2 separate regions of the Homo sapiens genome follow, and region 2 is linked to region 1. Evidence: fine-mapped expression QTL. A gene starts in region 1. The other region holds a variant in brackets. All regions are shown on one strand. Distances are between the middles of the regions.

Region 1 (5,380 bases):
TTGCAGCACTTTGGGAGGCCAAGGTGGGAGGATAGCTTGAGCCCAGGAATTCGAGACCAGCCTGAGCAACATAGCGAGGTCTTGCCTTTACGAAAACTAATATAAAATAAAAAAATTAGCTGGGTGTGGTGGCACATTCCTGCAGTCCCAGCCACTTAAGAGGTTGAGGCAGGAAGATTGCTTCAGCCTGAGAGGTCAAGGCTGCAGTGAGCCATGATCACACCAGCAGTGGTGTGATCCAGCCTGGGCAACAGAGCAAGACTCTGTCTCAAATATATAAATAAAAATATAAATAAATAAACACAATTTGAACTATTGTCCTTGAATACGGTATATGTGCACCTTTCTCAGAAAGAAAGATTTTACTTTATTACACCAAGCAAACTGTGTAATGGTTGCAAAACTCCCACAATAAAATCTTTGTCCAAAAGTTGTGTTGACTCACTTTTTTTCCCTCGTGTTTTGAGGATACGACATACATACAGTGAAGTATATACACTTTCAGTGACCAGCCCAATGCACGTTTGTACAAGTAGGCTCCGTGAAGCCTTCACTCCCCCAGATCAAGAAGACCCAGAACATTCCAGCACTCCAAAAGGCTCTCTCTTGCTCCCTCTCAGTAACCAGCAATCCTGTTCTGGCTCCCAAACACAGCTACTTGTTACTGATAGATAGATAAACTGTTCTATCACTTTAGAGTAGCTTTGCCTTTTCTTGCTCCCTTCCACATGCTGTAGGAATTTGGGTTGTGACCTCAGCAAGCCCTCGTTCTGCAGAAACTTCACAGAAATAGAATCGCGCTCTCCCATGAGCTGCTTCGGTCTCACGCCATGTCTGCGAGATGCATCCATGTTGTATGCAGCTGCAGTCTGGTCTTTTTCACTGCTGGTTTGCATTGCATTATATGAATATGCCACAGTGGGTCCATTCTACTACAGATGGACATTTGGGTTTTTTCCAGTTTGAGGCTAATATGAATAAAAGCTTACTTTTATATTATTAATGGGCAAGAAGGACCTTCCCATCGAGCCTGCAGAAAGGAGACTCATGAGTTTGGCTTGGACGTCATTAATGCCCGTCCGTCTGCCCCAGGAGGTCATTATAGCCCATTATGTTGTTACCGAGCAAAAGAGGTCACTGACCCGTGCGCTAGAAGCCAATAAATACTAAGACACTGGGTTTCAGAGAAAAGAAAAGCTTTTCATTGCAAATTGACCAACACGGAGACAGGAGTCCAGCTCAAATCTGTCTCGCTGTGCTGCCTTTAAGGAAATAATTTTATTAGAAAAGGGTTAGAGGGTGGGTTCCGGGATTAGCAGGAGATCGGTGGAAGGAAAGAGGAGGTCTGGCAAGTCCTCAGACATGCGCAGTTATCTCTTCATGCTTCCTCATGGGTGCTGTGTGCAAATCAAATTCCGGGGCAGTTAATACGAAACATGCGTGGAAATTCAGGCTGTGATATCAGCAAGCTCTTTCTGCAGAAACTCCAGTTGGCCATATTGGGTCCAACTGATTTCTGCCAGTTTTGTTATCACTTGTCACAGTTTCAGTATCTACCCCAGGAGGTCACGATTGCCCATTGTGTCTGTCCCAGGAGAGGTTGCGAGAGGTTCCCACCCACCCCCTTCCACTCACAGACCCTGAAGCAGAGCTTGTCTGGTTTCAGGCAAAACAGAGTCAGCATCCTGAAGCGGGGAGGGTCAAGTCTCCTGGGATGCGTTCAGAAGAAATTTCACAAGCATTTGGCTGAACTTGTGTACTGACATCTAAATGTTGAGTAACGTAGAGTAAAGAATTAAAAGGCAATCAAATAACCCTTTGGCTCATCTTTAAGTTTCTTCATGTTTTCTGAAAGCTTGTTCTTTTTCTTAAGTTTATTTCAAAAATGCTAAAAATTAGCCGGGCGCGGTGGCTCACGCCTGTAATCCCAGCACTTTGGGAGGCCGAGTCGGGCCGATCACGAGGTCCGGAGATGGAGACCATCCTGGCTAACACGGTGAAACCCCATCTCTATTAAAAATACAAAAAATTAGCCGGGCGTGGTGGTGGGCGCCTGTAGTCCCAGCTACTCCGGAGGCTGAGACAGGAGAATGGCGTGAACCCGGGAGGCGGAGCTTGCAGTGAGCGGAGATCGCAGAGATTGCAGAGATTGCACCACTGCACTCCATCCTGGGGGACAGAGCGAGACTCCATCTCAAAAATAAATAAATAAATAAATAAATAAATAAATAAATAAATAAATAAATAAATATAAAAAGCTAAAAATTAGGCCTTGCCTAGAGAAGAGAGTCACCCTGGATTCTAGCCTCACCTAATATGAGGCTTTCCCTATTTTCTCAGCTGAGGGGTAAGGACCCTTAGGACCTTGGAACTCCTGGATTCCACCTGCTGGTTGGAGCTTACAGGCAGGGGCCCCTGTGGGGCTGTGACGCCCTGTGTGATGTCATCAGGCTTTGTGAGGGGGACTGTACTGCCCTTTGAGTACTACTGTGTGGCCCCGCAACCCAGCACAACCAGGTATCTGCTTGGAACCCAGCCACCATAAAGCCTGCTAGCTAAAAAAAATTTTACATCTCTCAGTTCATTCGGCACAGACCCCTGCCTCATTCAGCTGTGACTCTGCTTGGAAAATTCATCAGTTACAAAGCAGCCAATGCAATTATCTCAAGGGTAGGTGAAGTGAGCCCCATGTGCTAGAAGTGGGAACAAAGATGGGGGGAAACGTCTTTCACTTTGAATCAGCGGAAGCAGTACATCAAATCACTGCGTCTTGAAGGAGGTGCTAGCTCTGGGGATTAGGTTTAAGAAGATTTATTTTATTTTTTAAAGAAGGAGTAGCCTCCTAGCTGGTTACACCACCCTAAACGTGGACTGGGCATTGTAATGGCTTTAGTTCATGAAAAATAGGGAAACTTTTCATTACATGTGTCTTTATGCTGGTAATGTTTATACAGTGACTGTATTACTTATTTGAAAAAAATAGGGAAATAAAGGCCCTTAGCAGTGTCATAAAGTCCTAGATCTTATATGGAGATCAGTATTAAGATGGTCCTAGGAAAGCTAGGGGTTAAAAATGCTGATTATAAACTGGGCACGGCAGCTGGCATCTGTAATTCCAGCTCCTGGGAGGCTAAGGTGGCAGGACCATGTGAGTCCAGGAGTTCAAGATCAGCTTGGATGAAAGAGTGAGACTCTGTCTCGAGAAAAAAAAAAAAAAAAAGGAAAAAAAGTGTTGATTATTGACAGAAGAATTAGTTGTGATATTATCTAAAGCATGGTCATGTTTTCCTGATTCAATAGACTCGTATTTTTTTAAAAACTTGGCCAGGCATGGTAGCTCATGCCTGTAATCCCAGCACTTTTGGGGGCCAAGGCAGAAGGATCACTTGAGCTCAGGAGTTTGAGACCAGCCTGGGCAACATAGCAAGACCTCATCTCTATTTAAAAAAAAAAAAAAAAAACAGGCGTGGTGGCACTCACCAGCCTGTAGTACCAGCTACTTGGGAGGCTGAAAGAGGAGGATCATTTGAGCCTGGGAAGTCAAGGCTGCAGTGAGCTGTAATTGGGCCACTGCACCCCAACCTGGGCAGCAGAGCGAGACCCTGTCTCAAAAAAAAAAAAGAAAAGAAAAAAAAAAAGAAAGAAACTCAATGACTGTAAATGCAGATTTAGGCTAGGGTTTTGGCGTGTTGGTGGGGGCATGTTGGTGACTATTAGCTGCATTCTTTTCTCTACAGGATTCTTTTGATCATCTGCTAAGTCTCTTTAATGCACTTAAAATTTTATTTGCTGTACATATGAATCCTCGTTGAAATATATTTTACAAATTCTGTGCTTTTCTAGCATTGAATTCTGCATCTTTTAGTGAAGAAAATAACTGAACATGGTTTTCTTCTGAAGACACAAAGTCCAAAGGCCAATCACACACCTCTTACATCGATCTCTTGATAGGAGGGGTTTTCTGTGTTTTGTGGGAGTATAGGGGGTGGGTTGGGAGGTGAGGTGCTTGTCACAGAGAAAACATAATATAAGAACTCATATTAGTAAAATAAGAAAATTAAGGAGGTTGGGGATATGTTCATAAGTGTTCACGTCTAAAGAGAATTCCCCCCAAGTTTTCCTGATGTATTAGAATCTTTCTAGAGAATAATTTATTTTTCAGTAATAATCCTATTGAGACAGGATTCTTTCAATGTCACTTTGCCAGCTGGACATTTCCCGGCTGGCAGCACCCGTCCTTGGGCCTCACTTGGCTCTAGGCTCACCTCTGGGCTTGCTCTCCCCACTGGACGCAGCAGGCTGCACTCGGCTGGCACTACCGACCTAGATTCTGCACACACACACCACTCTGTGCTTAGCCCATGGCTGGTCTGAGTGTGCCACAACCATCTTCCACCTTGGGCACCAGCATCTGGATGAGGGGGAACATGGTGGTGCCTGAAAACTCAGAGATGCCAACCGCCACAGAGCCCCAAGGGGTGTTACAGCTCTCACCTGGGGAGTCCCAAGGTCTGAGCCCCCAAGGACTGTTACAGCTCTCTGTCTCCTTCCTGCCACCTGCAGCATAGTGAAACGGGGTTGGGGAGGGGGGTGTGTTATGGCTTGTTTGGTTGCGGCAAACAGTGCAAGGGGTGTGTTGCAGCTCATTTGTGCTACAGCTCATTCTGTCCCACCATCCTGCTCCAGCCCACTGGTGCTCCTAGGCTGGCCCAGCCCTACCACCACTTCCCATGATGTGGGGTGGCCATCTGGCACTGGCAGAAGGTGGGAAGGTTACAGTGTTACAGCTCCTTTTGCACCCATCATTCGGTGGGTCCCAGGTCCTTGTCCTGCGTCCAAGAAGAATGAGGTTACACAGACACTGGAGAGTCAGCAAGGCAGAGAAGGGTTTTATTGAGCAACAGAACAGCTCTTGACACAAGAGGGGATCCAAAGTGGGTAGCCCTCTGTGTGAGAGGGGGCTCAAAGATGGATAGTCCCAACATGGGGCTGAGTCTGGGGTTTTCATGGGCTCAGAATGGGGAAGTACATGCTGGAAAGAGCACCAGTCCTTCCAGGTGGGCCTGGAAATAACACCATTTGATTGGCTACAAGGCATTGAGGAAGTTCTCACTCCGGTCGTGGACTCTGGCAACTCAGTTTTCAGGCTTTAAGCTGTCTTTGGCTTGAAGGTTGGATTTCACTGGGGACCTGCCCCTCTCTGCCTAGGAATTTGTCTGTCTCCTGTTGCTATCACTATCATATTAGTGCATGTGTTTATTTTGTATATTACATTTGGTTGTCTCCCCTTACCTTTTTTTTTTAACTAGTTTCTAATTGCTTTTGGTTTTTGGAGAAAGTTGACATGGAAGTTAACTTTAGATAACTTTAAAATTTAGAT
Region 2 (5,380 bases), 51 kb after region 1:
GTTCCATCCATGTTGCAGCCAAAGACATCATTTTATTCTTTTTTATGGCTGAATAGTATTCCATTGTGTATATATACCACATTTTCTTTATCCAGTCTTCCACTGAGGGACACTTTAGTTGATCCCATGACTTTACAGTTGTGAATAGTGCTGTGATAAACATACAATGGCAGGTATCTTTTTGACACAGATGATTTCTTTCCCTTTAGGAAGATACCCAATAGTGAGAATGCTGGATTCAATGGTAGTTCTACTTTTAGTTCGTTGAGAAATCTCTGTATTGTTTTCCACAGCGGTTGTACTAATTTACATTCCTACCAACACTGTGCAAGCGTTCCCTTTTCTCCTCATCCTCGCCAGCATCTGTTACATATTAGTCATGGTATTAATTAGCATTCATATCTGAAGATACATTTTTCCCTTAGTTCTAATGACGACCAAAAAAGCTAGGTGCAATGAGTTTTGGAAAACTTAACACACACACACACAAAAAGCAAAATCATGCCTAGGGCTTAAGCCAATGATAACTCAAGACCTCCCCAGCTCCCTGACATGCAGGCATCACCATGACCAAGGATCATGCCCTTTTCCCCCAGCCACCTGCCCTTTTCTAAGGGCAGAGCAAGGCCCTTTCACTTTCTCCCTGCTGTCTCAGACCACAGCTGACTCCAACGTTTTCGGCCTGCACACCAAATGGACGGAACTGCAGTGCCCTGAGATGAGAAATACCATGAGTGGAGCAGGTTTTTGGCAGGAAGATTCTCTTTGGGGCATATTTGAGATGTCTATTTGGCATTCAAGTGGGGATGTGAAGTAGGTAGTTGGATGCAGTTGGATACATGAGTCCCTTATGAGATGGATGGGCCAGAAGGACCTACTAAACCAATCTGGTGAGATTTCTTCTGGTTTTGGAAAAATATAGAATATGTATATTGAGACCCAGGGGGAAAAAGCCTCCAGAGATTATTCTTTCAAGTTCTTAGGCTTAATCAAATTGTTCTGTTACTTGCTTCTAGAAGTCTTTAATACAGTAATAGAATTATTGTCAATAGAATTACTTAGGACTCAATCTATAACATGATATGACATTTATCTTCATATCATCTATAACTCTTTGATTCTCTGGTACTGAACACAATCCTATATGGATTCAATCATGAGTCTGGAGTTTTGAGAGAGGTCAGGGCTGGAGGCATCCTTTGGGAGTCATGGATAGGATGGATGAGAATCACTATGTGGGTGAGTGGAGAAGTGTAGAGGACCAGCCCTGAGCCCTGGGTGCTTCAACATTGACAGTTGAGAGGAGGAGAGGAACTGGCAAAGGAGATGGGAAGGAGCAACCAGGGAGGGAGGAGAAGGACCAGGAAATCTGGTTCCCTGGAGGCCCAGGGAGGCATGTGTGTCCAAGAGAAGGGTGTGGCCAGCAGCATCCAACACAGTGGCTGGATCAGCGAGAGAAGGACTGGAAATGAGCATTGGACTAAACCATGAGAAGGTCATGAACAAGTCTTAATTGTGAATGGCGGGAGGCGAAGCCTGATGGAAGGGAGTTTAAGGGAATTAGAGATAGTGATGGACAAATCTTTCTAAGGCTTTAATACGAAAGAGAGAAAAGGGGACATAACTGACAGGAAGTGGGGTCAAAATAAGGCGGTTTTAATTTTGTAATTGGCAGAGATAACAGCATGACTGGATTCTGATAGGAATGTTCCTATCTGGTGCACTCGGCAATGTGTGTCACATCTGGTGCAGTAGGCACCCCACACCCGACCCATAAGCAAATCTGTTAGCTCCATCTCCAAAATATGCCAGGAATTCAACCGCATCTTACTACCTACATTGCTGCATTCTTATCCCGGATCCCATTATTTTTCTCTGCAGCCCCTCTAATTGGCTTCCCTACCCTTTCCCCTACACATGGGTCTTGGTTTGTGTGTTGAGTGACTCATATCCCTAAAACATAGGTGCTCAATAAATACTTATTTGAACAAATGAATGTAAACTTGTGATTATTTTTCTTTTTCTTTTTTTTGGGGGGGGCGGGACAGATTCTCACTCTGTTGCCCAGGCTGGAGTGCAGTGGTGCGATCTCAGCTCACTGCAGCCTCCCAGGTTCAAGCGATTCTCATGCCACAGTGTCCTGGGTAGCTGGGATTACAGGCGCGGGCAACTGCATCTGGCTAATTTTTGTATTTTTCGTAGAGATGGGGTTTCACCATGTTGGCCAGGCTGGTCTTGAACTCCTGACCTCAAATGATCCACCAGCCTCAGCCTCCCAAGTGTTGGGATTACAGGTGTGAGCCACCACACCCAGCTGTGACTATTTTCAAACTACTTAGTTTGGTATTATTTGGCCCTACTATTGGTGGACAAAACAAGATGCTTCTTAATATTATGGTTTGTCCAGAAGTAAATATTACAATTCACCTAATGTCTTTAGAAAGGGAGAGCTCTGAGCCCTGCTACCCAGTTCAATTGTCATCCTCATGGGAAACTTACATTCCAAATATCATTTTCCTTCTCATTAGGAAAACATTTAGAATATATCGCATACACATTTTGGTGAGAACTAAGTAAAAGTTATTGCCTACTTTTGTTGTGGTTTTTAGTAATTTTATATACTTAAATGTATAATAGGATAATTTTAGTATTAATGTTTTCTCTTTTTTTTTTTTTTTTTTTTTTGAGACAGAGTCTGGCTCTGTCGTCCCAGGCTGGAGTGCTGTGGCACGATCTCAGCT[C/T]ACTGCAACCTCTGCCTCCCAGGTACAAGCGATTCTCCTGCCTCAGCCTCCCGAGTAGCTGGGACTACAGGCGCATGCCACCTTGCCTGGCTAATTTTTTGTATTTTTAGTAGAGACGGGGTTTCACTGTGTTAGCCAGGATGGTCTCGATCTCCTGAACTCGTAATGCACCCGCCTCGGCCTCCCAAAGTGCTGGGATTACAGGCATGAGCCTCCACACCCGGCCTGTTTTCTCATTTTAAACTATAAGTTATTACTAATTTAATATAATTTTGAGGAAACTACAGAATGACTTTCTCTGTGAAATTAATTTCATATTTATGTCCCCTTTCTAGGTCACCTGCAATGTCTGGAGGAATTTTTGCTATACGTCGGCATTATTTTAATGAAATTGGACAGTATGACAAGGATATGGATTTTTGGGGAAGAGAAAATTTGGAACTTTCACTAAGGGTAATTCAGATTTCATTTTTAAAATAGCTATAGAGAGTGAAACCTAACTTTGTCACATACAATGCTGTGGTAATTATGCTCAATTTTCCTACATGAACATCCAGTACCATTCCAGCAGCACATGCAATAAACAATTTATGGGGCTCCTTGTAAAAATGGAAAACATTTAATAAAATATTAGATTCTTGGCCTGGTGTGGTGGCTCATGCCTGTAATCTCAGCACTTTGGGAGGCTGAGGCAAGTGGATTGTTTGAAGCCAGGAGTTCAAGACCAGCCTCAGCAACATAGCAAGACCCCCATCTCTACTTTTTTTTTTTATGAGATGTGGTCTCGCTATGTTGCCCAGGGTGGTCTTGAACTCCTGAGCTCAAGTAATCCTCCCATCTCGGCCTCCCAAAGCACTGAGATTACAGGTGTGAGCTACTGTGCCTAGACTCTACTTCTTAAAATAAATATATTTAATTTAATTTAAAAATATTTGGTTCTTATACCATATGTTTTGTTATTTCTGATGTATGGTATATCAAATTAATATAATATTTTAAATCTATTGTCTTTATTGTCTCAGTAGTTGTGTTTTTTCCAATTTTTTCTGTTTTGGATTTTATTTTCTCTCTCTTTTCCTTCCTTCTTTTGGCCAGTTATTTGTTCACTTTTAAAGTTCCCAAGCAGACTTCTTTCATAATGCTTCAGATACTTGATTATGCATATAAAAATATCTAGAACAATATAGTTTCCTCCAAGCCTCTATCTGATGGTCCCTCTTAAGCTTGTTGTTTTTGTTGTTTGTTTGTTTGTTTGTTTGCTTGCTTTGTTTTTTTCATTCTCATGTTCCCTTTGGACGTAGGCATTATTTTATAACGCTCATGCCTTTGGCGCATTTTATTCTGTTTAGTTGATTATTCCTTGTTTTATTATATTGCACTCTAAGAAAATGGCTCAAGGAGTTCACCTCCTTTCAGGATCTAATAACTGTGATCAGTTTTGTGTATTATACAGGCAGAGTTGGAGAGTCAGTATATTCCTTTTTCTGGCCCTACATTCCCTATAGATAGCAAATGACAACTAATTTATTATTCAAACATTAATTATTCCTACTCCAATATTTCAATGGCGCCTTTCCTGATGGCCTGTCATATCTTTTAAATATACTTGGGTGTCTTTTTATAAAGAAGTATGTAAATTAATAAGTAGCTGAAATATTCTCTTGACACTGGCAGCTGTCTCTAACCACGACAAGTAACCTTGTCTTTCCTGAGAAAAGAATGATCTCTGCACCTGCATACACCTCTTCATTTCTCGTTTACTCCTCATTCCAGTAAATCGATATCCTGGAAGGCCCTCAGCTTTCCGTGACATCGTTCCAGGAACTGCCACCAGTTTTGTAGTGATGTCCTTAATGGATGGCTTTTGATCTTCCATCTATCTGAGGTCATTGCAGCATCTGACACTAAACTGTCTTTTCTGGAAGTTTTCTTGGACGTTAGGACAATATTCCTGGTTTGCCTTCCATTGCTCAGTTGTTCTCAGTTTCCTTTGTAGGAATTTCTGCTGTGGCTCATCTCTTAGACACAGGTGTCCCCAAGGTTTCCATCCTTGTCAGACTTTGCTTCTTACCCCATGTGCTCTTCAGGGCTCAGGGCTAGCATCCAGGTCCTCTGCTCCTGTGAAGCCACACTGGTTGTTAACATAATGCAGTCTTTCTGCATCTGGTGTGAAAAAACCTCTACTCTGAGCCAACCAAATACCTTCCACCTGCAGCCCAACCATAGGTCTACGCTCCCTGGACCTTCCCATGTTCCAGTAACTAAGGGAATAGCACTTGGCAGGGCAAGTCTACTCTGATCGCCGAGGGTCTGTGCCACACCCTTGTTGATATTTTTAGTAGGATACTTGCATCAGTCCCCATGGCTGTAACTAATACCTGTATCACGATAATATCCAACTCTATAGTTTCAGTTTAGGACTATCTCTTGAGAGTAATATTTAAGCTCAATCTAGCCATCATTTAAGGAGCACTTCCTTTAAGTCAAACTGTGCTGTATGCTGAGCATTGAGAAGAAGACACAGTCTTCATTAATTCATCCATGCAACAATATGTATTGAGTACTGTTATGTATGAAGCACTGTGCTGGGTGCTAAAATACAGTGGCACACAATACGAAAGTGGCTTCTTTTTTTTTTT

Direction of the effects. Alleles are on the strand shown, and positions count from the first base shown. SD is a standard deviation of normalised expression in the study named.
For the expression in caudate of the gene that starts at base 2,507 in region 1, allele C in region 2 goes with a higher level than allele T (small effect, 0.39 SD a copy in GTEx).

Evidence for each region. PIP is the estimated chance that this variant, and not a neighbour inherited with it, causes the effect.
Region 2: its variant is the best candidate, but not a certain one, in a credible set for the expression of GALNTL5 in caudate (GTEx, PIP 0.61).

What each region holds. Positions count from the first base shown.
Region 1 is chr7:151,953,940-151,959,319 of GRCh38, forward strand. It overlaps GALNTL5 (polypeptide N-acetylgalactosaminyltransferase like 5), which reads left to right and starts at 2,507. Exons shown (of 9, transcript NM_145292.4): 1 at 2,507-2,670. LOC105375570 (a long non-coding RNA gene) reads right to left here and starts at 983. Exons shown (of 3, transcript XR_007060597.1): 1 at 446-983. LOC105375571 (a long non-coding RNA gene) reads right to left here and starts at 2,406. Exons shown (of 2, transcript XR_928179.2): 1 at 2,312-2,406; 2 at 1,260-1,766.
Region 2 is chr7:152,004,751-152,010,130 of GRCh38, forward strand. GALNTL5 (polypeptide N-acetylgalactosaminyltransferase like 5) reads left to right here. Exons shown (of 9, transcript NM_145292.4): 7 at 3,077-3,194. Among named protein-coding and RNA genes, the nearest start is that of GALNT11, 18 kb to the right of the region's middle. The variant C/T (reference allele first, on the strand shown) is at 2,742.